Linked DNA regions of Homo sapiens. The protein of the gene in region 1 interacts with the protein of each later gene in a pairwise test. Each region holds a gene or a part of one and is shown on either strand. Other genes may lie near its edges.

Evidence for each region.
Region 2: the proteins of FAM228A (region 1) and PLEKHA7 interact in binary tests that used the Homo sapiens proteins (3 or more experiments, as listed by UniProt).

Annotation. Positions count from the first base shown.
Region 1 is NC_000002.12:24,170,537-24,178,052, forward strand, and holds the start of FAM228A (protein FAM228A), read left to right. Parts: upstream 1-4,516; 5' UTR 4,517-4,638; intron 4,639-4,930; 5' UTR 4,931-4,944; coding exon 4,945-5,037; intron 5,038-7,265; coding exon 7,266-7,334; intron 7,335-7,516.
Region 2 is NC_000011.10:16,776,662-16,780,572, reverse strand, and holds the end of PLEKHA7 (pleckstrin homology domain-containing family A member 7), read left to right. Parts: intron 1-1,552; coding exon 1,553-1,575; 3' UTR 1,576-3,276; downstream 3,277-3,911. UniProt on the Homo sapiens protein: Required for zonula adherens biogenesis and maintenance. Acts via its interaction with CAMSAP3, which anchors microtubules at their minus-ends to zonula adherens, leading to the recruitment of KIFC3 kinesin to the junctional site.

The DNA.
Region 1 (7,516 bases):
TCTGGCATCTGAGCTTTATATTATCTTGCTTTAAATTATCCATTTTTCTCTCATTCCATATTCCTCATCCTCTTTAAATTATTCTACCCTGACAGTTATCTAGTCTCCCAACATCTCACCCCTAATCAATATATGGTTCTAAGTGAAACTAGATTTTCTTTCTTTCTTTCTTTTTTTTTTTTTTTGAAACAGGGTCTCGTTCTGTTGCCCAGGCTGGAGTGCAGTGGCATGATCATGGCTCACTGCAGGCTGGACCTCCCAGGTTCAAGCAATTCTCCGCCTTTCAGCCTCCCGAGTAGCTACGACTACAGGTGTACGCCATCATGCCTGGCTAATTTTTTGTATTTTTTGTAGAGATGAGGTCTCACCATGTTGCCCAGGCTGATCTTGAACTCCTGGGCTCAAGCGATCCACCCGCCTCAGCCTCCCAAAGTGCTGGGATTACAAGCATGAGCCACTGCACCTGGCTGAAAACTAGATTTTTAAAACTTTATACTATGCACAATTTCAGAGAATTACAGAAAAAATAATTATAATTGTATAATGAATCCTTATGTTTCTGACATCCAGCTTCAATACTGATTACCTCATGTCCAGTCTTGTTTTGTGTATATGCATACCTACTTCTCAACCCTAACTGGATGACTTTGAAGCAAATCCCAGATGTCGTATCACAAATATAGTTGCTCATTCCACATGGTGAAGAGAAGATGCCTTTCCTTTCCCTGCACTTTGACACGAATACCAATTCCAAATATCTCACATTTCCTCTGAAGCCTTGTACTATTTCTGTATTATTTGAGATCATTTGTATTGCAAGTAACAAGCTAACCAGAGCTAACATAAGCACAAATGGTCCCTGGTGGTCTAGTGGTTGGGATTAAAAAAAAAAATTTCATTGAAAGAGTGCCAAAGCATCTTACAGAACCCTGAGAAAAAACTGAATTCCACAGGAATGGCAGGAACCTTGACAGCACTGGCCCCTGAGCAGCAGGCATCTCAGACCCTTCTAGGCTGTTGTCATGAACGTGACTCACAACACCTTTCCAAGTCTCTGTTTTGGTTAGACGTCTATAATCCTAGAAGAAAGACAGGAGAATCTGATCCTAGACTTGGGTCAGGTGTACACTCCTTGACCAATTAGCCACAGAGAAGAACAGGGAGGTGCTGCCATCGAGTCCACCTCTGGCCAGGTGAAGTGGCTCACGCCTGTAATCCCAGCACTTTGGGAGGCCGAGGAGGGTGGATCACCTGAGGTTAGGAGTTTGAGACCAGCCTGACCAAAATGGCAAAAGCCCATCTCTACTAAAAATACAAAAATTAGCTGGGCATGGTAGGGGGGCACCTGCAAGCCTAGCTACTCAGAAAAGCTGAGGCGGGAGAATCGCTTGAACCCAGGACGGGGAGGCTGCAGTAAGCCAAGATTGCGCCACTGCACTCCAGCCTGGGCAATAGAGCAAGAGACGCCATCTCAAAAAAAAAAAAAAAAAGTCTACCTCTGTGAGTGGAGTCAGGGATTTGCCAGAGATGGGACCACGCAGGCATCTCTAATCCACCATGTGGAGCAAGGAGGCCAGGAATCACTGAAGAAAGCTGAGCCCAAAAAGACAGGCAGGAATCTTACAGGTCATGCTAAAGCGTTTGGAATTTATGGGGAGACCCTGAAGGATTTTATAATACTCTAGTTCTTGGCATTTTTTCCCTTTTATATTACTTCATCAGTCAAAACAGACTTCTAGAAATCACATCAGCATTAAAGGGATATTGTTACTTCACCTTGACTTTTTATAGAAGGAGAAAAGTCTCGGTAAATCAGTTCTGTTCCATGAATCAGTCATTACTGCCTTCTCCATAGCCTTTCCTTCGTTCAAGTAAATTTAGAAATTTCTTAAGTTTTCTTTATAACAGGTAGCCTAAATCTATATCATACTTTTAAAATAAAAATCTAGGTGCAAATTTGTTCTTATGGTTAAGGTTAACATGTACACTTCACAAACATTGAGACTTTTGTTTTGTTTTCTGGGACAAGGTCTTGTTCTGTCTCCCAGCTGGAGTGGATACAAGCATGGCTTGCTTCAGCCTCAACCTCCCGGACTCAAGTGATCCTCCCACCTCAGCTTCCTGAGTAGCTGGGACTACAGGTGCCTGCCACCATGCCCAGCTAATTTTTAAACGTTTTGTAGAGACGCGGTCCCATTGTGTTGCCCAGGCTGGTCTTGAACACCTGGCCTCAAGCGATCCTCCTACCTCGGCCTCCCAAAGTGCTGGGATTACATGCATGAGCCACCATGACTGGCCTAGACTTTTTGATTTAAAGAGACTTTTTGGATAGAAATGCTTTTCTCTATTACAGTTATAAATGACTAAAAATACTAGCTATGCCAAAATGGCAACCAGAGGCCGACTGCAAAGCTTCAAAAGGCTTGATGCTCTCCTGGTAGACAAGTCTTCAGTCTCTTAAATGTTTTTTTCATATGTTGACATTGAAATTTCATTTTGTGTAGATGTTGGGATTATGTCTCATTCATTTATTTATTCATCATTCACTTAGTAAGTATTTAAGTGCCTGTTTTTCCCAGGTGCTCTGCCAGGTTCTGGGGATATAAGGATGAGCCAACATAGGCTCTCTGCCCTAAAGTTAGTGGGAGAAACAGTAACAAAAGATTTTAATACTATGAGATTAACTGACTTAGTTGTGGTATGTAGAAAGAGACACAGAGCCTGCAGCAAGAGCCTAGGTGAAGACTCAGTGAAGCACTACCTATTGAAAGGAGAATCTTTCAAATCCTTAACAGTTATTTTCACCATGTAAAAAAGGCGACATTGCCAGGGAACATCAAGTAAAGAGACAAATGCTCAGGTAAGCTTTTAAATCATATGAGATTGAAATAAGTTGATTCAGTAAATCAGGGAAACTTTTATTTTCAAATGAAGTAAGGAAGAAGCTAGGTAGAAATTAAAAATCCTATTTTGTATCACCTTTTGCTTATACTTAATGTAGTTTAAGCCATCAGTATATTATACTTTTCTGTGTATGTCGTCTACTCAACAGGAATTTTCTGTTCGCCTGCTATTTGGGTCAGTCATAGATGGTCCCATGTTATGAGAAAGATGTAAAGATGAGATAGATTCAGCTCCTTTTCTCGAGAAGATTATACCATATAAGGAAGTAATTTGCTGAATGGTCTCTCAGTTAGCCTGACTAGAATCTCTAAATCATGGTCTACACAGCAGTAATGAGGAACTTTGGCCCCTCAAGTGTCAATGAAGGCCAACTGGGGCACCTGGATTCCTATCTCCATCTGGCAGTAATGAGGTGGTAACCTCATTAACCCTGTTAGATTGGTGTTGGAGAAAGCCAGCTAAAACAGAAAGTTTAAATAAGATCCAGAGTCTCATAATATAAACTGAAAATGTTCAGACTTCAATAGAGACCAGCACTGAGATGACAAAGATGTTAGAATAAGCTCACAGACTTTTAAAGTTGCTATGAGAAAACTGCTTCAATGAGCAAATATGGATACACTTGAAGCAAATGAAAAAATAAAAATCCTGAGCAAACAGGAGATACAAAGAAGAACCAGATGAAAATTGTAGAACTGAAAATTACAATAGCCAAAATAAAAAGCTCAGCAGTTAAGCTCAACAGTAGAATAGAGAAGATGGAGGAAAGAATCAGTGAGCTGGAAGATAGAACAATAAAAATTACCCAATCTTAAAAAATGAGAAAATAGACTGGGGGTGGAGGGAAGAAGAGAGGCTTAAGTGGCTGTGGGGGCTATAATAATATTCATGTCATCAGAATCCCAGAAGGACGAGAGAAACAGGCAGGACTAAAAAACATACTTGAAGAAACATTGGCTGAAAACAGAGTAATCCTTGTAGTGGTGTCCTGATACACCTGATACAAGATAATATCCTGTATCTTGACTGTAGCTATGTCAAATCTTGGTTGTGATAATGTACCATACCTTAAACTATTAACAATAATTCTAGATATCATTAAATTTGTAGTCAGAGTTTTCGCATTTTCCTGATTGGCCCAAATGTTTTGAAGTCGGTTTCTTCACATCAGAATCCAAACCAGGTCCACCTGTGGCACCTTCACCCTTCAGTGGGAGTAAGGAGCCGGACGCGTCACTTAAAACCATTCCTCTTACGTTGTCACCCTCAATCTTACAGGTAAATGGCAAATTCTCTTTCGTATTAGTGTACATGCCTCGATAAAAGTCCAGAAGGGCGGCGGGGGCCTCGGCGGTTGAAGGCCCGCGTGCCCTGGCTCCTGCGAGGGGAGGGCGCCCCCGAGACAGACGTGGAGGGAGGGCGAGGGCCAGGCGCTGGGCTTCATCACTGCGTTTCCGTTTTCTGTGAAATCAAATGGCGCCTTTCCCTTTCCCGGGAAGTCGGTGTCACCGCCCGTTTGCTGTGAAATCAAATGGCGCCCTTCCTTTTCCCGGGACTTCGGCGTCACCGTCCAGCTGGCGTCGGGGCAGCACCCCGGGATCTGGCGTGGCGCATGCGCCCCGACGCTCGGGCCCGCGGGCTCCTTTCTCCGTCGCCGCTCCAGGACGCGGCCTCGGGGGAGCCCTACCGGGACGGAGCCGCGGGGCCTGCGACTTCCCCCGGAGCTGGCCTGAGGTGGGGCCCGGGGAGGCCTACGGGCCTGGGGGTCGCGGAGCCCAGGGAGGGCTGTGGCAGGGCCAGGGGGGCGCGCCCCGGAGGAAAGGCCCGCTTTGGCCCGAGGACGACACGGGAGTGGGTAGCCGGGCCTGTTGAAGCGCCTAGGGCGCCAAGGATCCCAGTTTGTTGGGTGACTCGGCTCAGCTTTTAGAAAGGGGCCGAGCGGGATTTGAACACTCCCTGAGCCCAAAGGCCTGGCTCTCAACGGTAACCGTCTTCCTCAGCCTCAGTTTACCTTTTCATCCCTCAGGGATTCTCCTGTCCATGGCTGCCACCAAAACTGCGAGTTATGATGAACATTTCAGGCCAGAAAAGTTAAGAGAATGGCCGGAGCCCGAGTCCGTTTCTTTAATGGAGGTGAGATAACGTGGCGTTTTGAGACGTCATTTTGGCGGGGGGACCCCTCGAGTTTGGGAACTGTTTATCTTAATTTCGCTTCTGTTCTCAGGATTGTGACAGTGCCTGCTTTAAAGCAGGCGTTGAAGGGGAATGTTCGGGCTCAGATTTGGCCGAGAGTGTGGCCAAGAGTGTTTCCAGTCGCCAGCCTGGGGGCTGGCGCACCGACGGGGGCGGGCAGCCGGGCGGGTGAAGGCAGCCACCCCAGCTCCCCGGCAGAAGCCAGGTCTGGGCTTGCCAGTCAATTCTGCATACTTCAGCGTCTGGTAATGATTTTCTCAAAAAGTTTCATTATTTTGTGTCATCCTATGATTTGCCTCGCTGTGAAAAACTCTTGGAAATTTCCTTTCTTTTTCCCCTTTTGCCCTAGTGGCGGTCGGAGCAGTGAGATGCTTAATTTTTCTATGTGTGTGCACAGAAAGCTGTGGATTTCGAAAAGTGCTGCTGCAAATCATGACCTTTTCCTTATATTTCCTGGCAAAATCACAAAGAAGAGCCATCAAAGACAAAAACTGTTTAATTTCTTTAAACAAAGATTATTTGAGAATCTGACTCAAGAATGTACATAACATTTGTTAACAATCTTACTAGGATGTTCTTTAAGAAGGTGACTTCCCAAGATGCTTGTCAATATGTTCTGCTTCTCCAAATAAATAAATAGATTCTAAATTTTTATTGTAGTGTCAGGATACATGTTTAATTGTTTTACATACTTTTTCAGTTGCCATCTTCATTTTAATTAAAAAAAATATTTTAGAGACAGGTTCTTGCTCTGTAGCCCAGGCTGGGGTGCAGTGGCCCAATCATAGCTCTCTGTAACCTCAGACTCCTGGGCTCAAGTAATTCTCCTGCCTGGGCCTTCAGAGCACTAGGATTACAGGCGTGAGCCACCCTGCCTGGCCTGTCTTCTTAAAATAAGTCTGAGAAGGCTTTAAAGCAAGATCCTGTTCCTATTACAAAGAGAGCTTTATTTTAGGAAGACCTGGGCAGCTGTTTGAATATCATTTTAGATCTCATGTGAAGCTATTAAATATGTGGGTAAAAAGAACAACTTTCCTTTTTTGAGATTTCTCTTATTCACAGATTTGGTATTTGAGTTTGGGGTTTAGTTTGTTGTGATGCATTCAGTGTGGCAGAATAGAAAGAAGAATCAGAAATTGAATAACAGTTCTAAGAACCTGTATCATTTTTCATCAGCAATAATTTTTAATGTAACAATTTATCTCTTCCAGATACTGGATTTTCATTGCCTTTTCATTTGTTCACACTTAGTCCTATAAGAATAAAAGCTAGAGATTAGTGCATAGTGATCCAACTGAAAAAGCCCTAAAGTGGGGATTAAAATGCATCAGCTTTACCCAAACTCATAATGGAAATAGCAAGTCCCTAGATGTGGATGATGTTGTTTGGAGGCCATGAGCTCTCACTAATTAGCTCTGAGATTCTGGACCAGTTGAACTAAAGGGAACTTTCTGTGGTTTTTGACTTATGAAGAGATCTAGCAAAAGGCGGGAAACTTCAAGGGCCCTTTAAGACACACCTACTAGCTGGGTGGGGTGGCTCACGCCTATAATCTCAGCACTTTGGGAGGCCAAGGTGGGTGGATCACTTGAGGTCAGGAGTTCGAGAGCAGCCTGGCCAACATGGTGAAACTCTGTCTCTACTAAAAACACAGAAATTAGCCAGCTGTGGTGTCATGTGCCTGTAATCCCAGCTACTTGGGAGGCTGAGGCAGGAGAATCACTTGAACCTGGAGGGCGGAGGTTACAGTGAGCCAGGATTATACCACTGCCCTGCAGCCTGGGTGACAGCCAGACTTTGTCTCAAAAAGCAAGCAAACAAAAAACACCTACTGAATGCCTGAAAAGAGGATTCCTTTAGTAAGCTTTTTAGTGCTTTAAAACGTAATTTAATAATATGCTATCAGGGATTTTTTTTAAATAGTCTGGGTGGGGGGGTGCTGAAAAATGAGTAGGGATTTATTGGATGAAATAAGATTGACTTGGAATTAATCACTCGAGCCTGGCTGACAAGTTCACAGAGAATGGGTTTAGAAATTTTCCATATTTTTATGTTACCAAATAAGCCTCAAGATTTACACTAAAACTATTGGTAAAGTACACTGAGTTTTGTCATTGTAGTTTGTTTCTTCAGGATTCACATCTTAATATTCAATTCTGTAATTTTAGGTATTAGCTAGAGAAGACATTGATGAAGCAGTATGTGCAATATTATTTAAAGAAAATTCCATTGTGAAGGTAAGAGTTGGCTCCACGCTGCATTCTACATATGTTCTAGGGGAGCAAGAGTGTGCAGAACAACATGGCCAAGAGTTTATGTCACCGTGATCCAAGAGACTCATTTTGCAGGAGTAATGAGGATCCTCTAATTTACTTGTTTGTACTACATGCATCTGAGGCCATGCCCCCTTCTTGCAGGA
Region 2 (3,911 bases), on another chromosome or scaffold:
TGGCCTTTCAGGGCTTTGGCCAAAGAAATTGAAGAACTGTAAGATTGGGAAAAGTCCAGTTCTACAGATGAGGAAACTGAGGCCCAGTGAGGGGCTGGGGCTCACTCCAGGTCACAAAGAATTGGTGTCAGCGCAGAGACTGGGACTGCCCTTTTGGTCACTGGGCACTTTAAGAGGGAGAGAAAGGGAAGCCCAGGGCAATGTGAAATTGGCCCTCAGCCAGGCAGAAAGCTCTGGCACCAACCCTACCAAGTTCTCCCCATGTGGGCATCTAGTGATGAGAGGCAGTGTGGGATGAGGAGGGAGCCCTGAAACAGGAGGCTGGCATCTGGTCCAGTCTCAAGTGAGTTCTTGGCCTGGGCCTGTTGCTTTTGAGCCCAGCGGTTCACCTGGACAGGGGAAGGTCAGACTACCAGTCTGGGCAGTCCTTACCCTGACATCCCATCCCACTATCATTTTGCAGGGCTTTCCCCTCTCCTTCCTTTACGTATACTTGTGGTTAACATTGTTGAGTGCCTGCTGTGTGCCAGGCATTGTGCTAAGTATCTCTTTCGATCCACACAACAACCCTATGAAGATATTCCCCCCCCCCTCCCCGTTTTAGAGATGAAAAAACAAAAGCTCAGAGGCCTTGAGGGATATGCGCAAGGAATCGCAGCTTGTTAAGTGCTGGGGTTTGAACCCCTTTGATGTGAGTTCAGAGCCTTTGTTCCCCATCACCACTCATGGGTTCATCTGGGCCGCCCCGAGCAGCTCTAGGTGTTTGGAGAAAGAAGTGAAAGGAGGGAGAGAGTATTTGTGCTGCAGGGAGCGAAGCATGATTTTTTGGCAGGTGTCTATCCTGGGTGCTCCCCGTGCCTCACAGCAGAGTCAGCAGGTCCCCGCCAGCCTGAGCATGAGAGGAAGAGGTCAGCCTCCTTGGGCCAGGCTCTGAGGAGGTGTGGAGTAGAGGCCCCGTGGTTGAGGAGCCATAGGGAAGTGCTCTAGCCACGCCCATTGTGAAGGCCACATTTGAGGGTGTGGCTTTCTCCTAGAGATCTGAGCACAGTAACAGCGCTCAGTCACAGAGAGGCAGGAGAGAGGTTCTGTTCCTCCTGGGTTTTGGTGCCCCCATGGCTGTAAGATTGGCCTATTATACTCTTTGGAGTACTGCATTTCTTCTTACTCTCAAAGCATCCTTGTTAAGAAGTGGGTATGACCACCATGTTTTTTAGGTTAGAAAAACAAGGCCCACAGAGGCCAAGAGCGCTACCCACATTGAAAGAATGAAGGGCAGGGCCAGACTGCACCTTTATTAGAGTCTTTGCCCTGTCGGGATGGGGACCCAATTTAGGGGCCAGCATGTGTCTAGCAGTGGAATAGGGGTGCAGGGAGGGTGGGGCAAGAGCCCCATGTGTCCTGGAAGCTGAGGGTCCCCCAGCAGCGGCCGCATTGCCAGAGCCCCCTGCTCTGCTGCTCTGCCTGTCCGCCTATCTGCCATTCCATCATGTGTGTGCAGACGTGCCTGCTCCCTGGATGCCAGCCTCTCACTGTCTCCTGTGCTTTTTGCCAGCCCAGGCAGTGACTGACCCGTGACCCAGCATGCAAAGAAGCCTGGAGCCAGGGGCCCAGTGGAACCAGCTTCCTCCAAGGAGATGACCTTTCTGCCCCCAAGGAAACCCCTTCCAGCTGAGCAGGGAATCCGGCCGGAGGAAGGAGCAGCTTACCGACTGCGGGTGTTCACCACAGGCCAGGCCCTAATATGCACCCACTAGTTTAGCTCAGACTCCTCTCTACATATGAATGGCAAAGGCACTTTTGATATACACTGTAAAATACACTGTATTTTAGAATCGGAATCTATTTTCTAATGTTCCCCTCAAGGGCTGAGTGGCAGGAAGGTTGAGGATGCAGGACTTTGCAGCTGCACGTACAGATTCAGGTACTTCTGGGTGACAGGTGTTGTGGGGGCAGGAAGGGCGGGGCAAGCCGAGGCTAGTCCAACTTCCAATGACCTCAGGAGAAAGTGAGATTTAAAGAGGTGTTCCCAGTAGACTCCAGCAAGAGGCTGGTTGGCGTGCTGTCTGGGAGAAGAGGGGCCCTTGGCTGCAGAGATCAGCTGTCCCTGACCTGATGACCAGCTCTGTGTGAAACTCCACGAGGATCACACGTGGAGCCCAAGTCTGTGCCTTGCCCCTTGGGTTTGGCTTAGGGGCAACAGTGTGTTCAAGAGGACTGGGGCCCACAACCTGCCCCCAGGCTTCCTCCAGCAAAAGGCTCTTGTCAGAAAGAAAAAAGCAGTTTGCTATCTTTTTTTTTTTTTGAGATGGAGTTTCACTCTTGTTGCCCAGGCTGGAGTGCAATGGCACGATCTCGGTTCACTGCAACCTCTGCCTCCTGGGTTCAAGTGATTCTCCTGCCTCAGCCTCCCAAGTAGCTAGGATTACAGGCATGTGCCACCACGCCCGGCTAATTTTGTATTTTTAGTAGAGACGGGGGTTTCTTCATGTTGGTGAGGTTGGTCTCGAACTCCTGACCTCAGGTGATTCATCCGCTTCAGCATCCCAAAGTGTTGGGATTACAGCCGTGAGCCACCACGCCCAGCCTGCTTTCATTTTTAACAGTACACATTGAAATACAGAAAAGGTGAGAGGAAGCAACTTTCATTGTATCGTAGCAATAAACTCCACACTGGGTGACATCTACCTAGAAATCCCTTCCCTCTAACCAGGCCATGATGGGAACCTTTGCTGCCTGCCCTTGGAGAACCCCGGATTGGCTTCCCTGGGACTCAGGTCTGGTGGCAGGAGGGCAGCAGTGTGCCCCCACCATCCCTCATGGCCTGCCGCCAGCAGGGCCATAATGGCAGGACTTTGATTTGACTTCCAGCCCCACATGAGGAGGGGGGCTACCAAGCCAGGTGCAGTGTTTGTGGCCCTTTATTTAAGTTGTTTTCTTATATTATTCTGCATATAAACAATGACGTTTAAATGGAAAAAACAACAACAACGAAAACCTCCATTGGGTGGAGCCACACTTTAAATGAAAATTTCTCTTTGACTATGCTCAGAAAAAAAAATAGAATTTTGAATATATCTAGCAGTTGTTGTCTATTTTTAACTAACTCCATATGCTGCCAGTATCGACTTCATGACATTTGCCAAAATAAAATTTTATTTTTGCCTTTATAAGATTTTCTTGGAAAAAATGAAATGAATATTTTGCAAGAAAAAGTTAATTTAAAAATGTAATGGTTTGCAAAAAAAATGTGATGTACAGATTAAAATATTAACCTGATACGTTTCCTGTTTCTTGCTGGCTATAGTCTCTGGTGAGTGGCCTGTGTACGTTTGTTTCCATTTCTTTGGAAAATCCCCACTGTCAGCTCTCGGCCCTGCTTCTATTTACCTATGAAAAGTTTCTTCTGGTGACGATTCCTTGACATTTGATTGACTGTAGAGGCCTGGATTGAGGAGGCCTGTGCTTCTGGGCCCCTGGCTAGGCTTCCACAGTTGCTCAAGGCAACCCCCTACCCCATCCCAGTCAAAGAGCCACCAGGCTGTGGACTCCCTTGTGGGGCTGGTTTGTCAGACAGACTGCAGTCCAATTCAAGACAGCGCAGGGAACGCTGTGGGCCCCCTTCCAACCCACATGCTGCCGGCTCGCTCCTGGGAGGCAGCTTAGTGACGGACCATTGCAAACTGGATTTGTATTTAATTCATTTTGACTTGTGATGTATGCTCACAACAGAAGGCAAGAAGCCAGTTCCATTGAGGGGTGTGTATATTTCTGAGCTGTGGTTACGGCAGTTTTTCTCTACTGCCAAGAAGAGCATCCGAGGTTCATGGTGACTTTCCAACTATTTAAACTGGGGAAAGTAGATTCCAAGGCATTCCGAACAGGGGGTACTGCTGCTTTTTTAGCTACTGAAC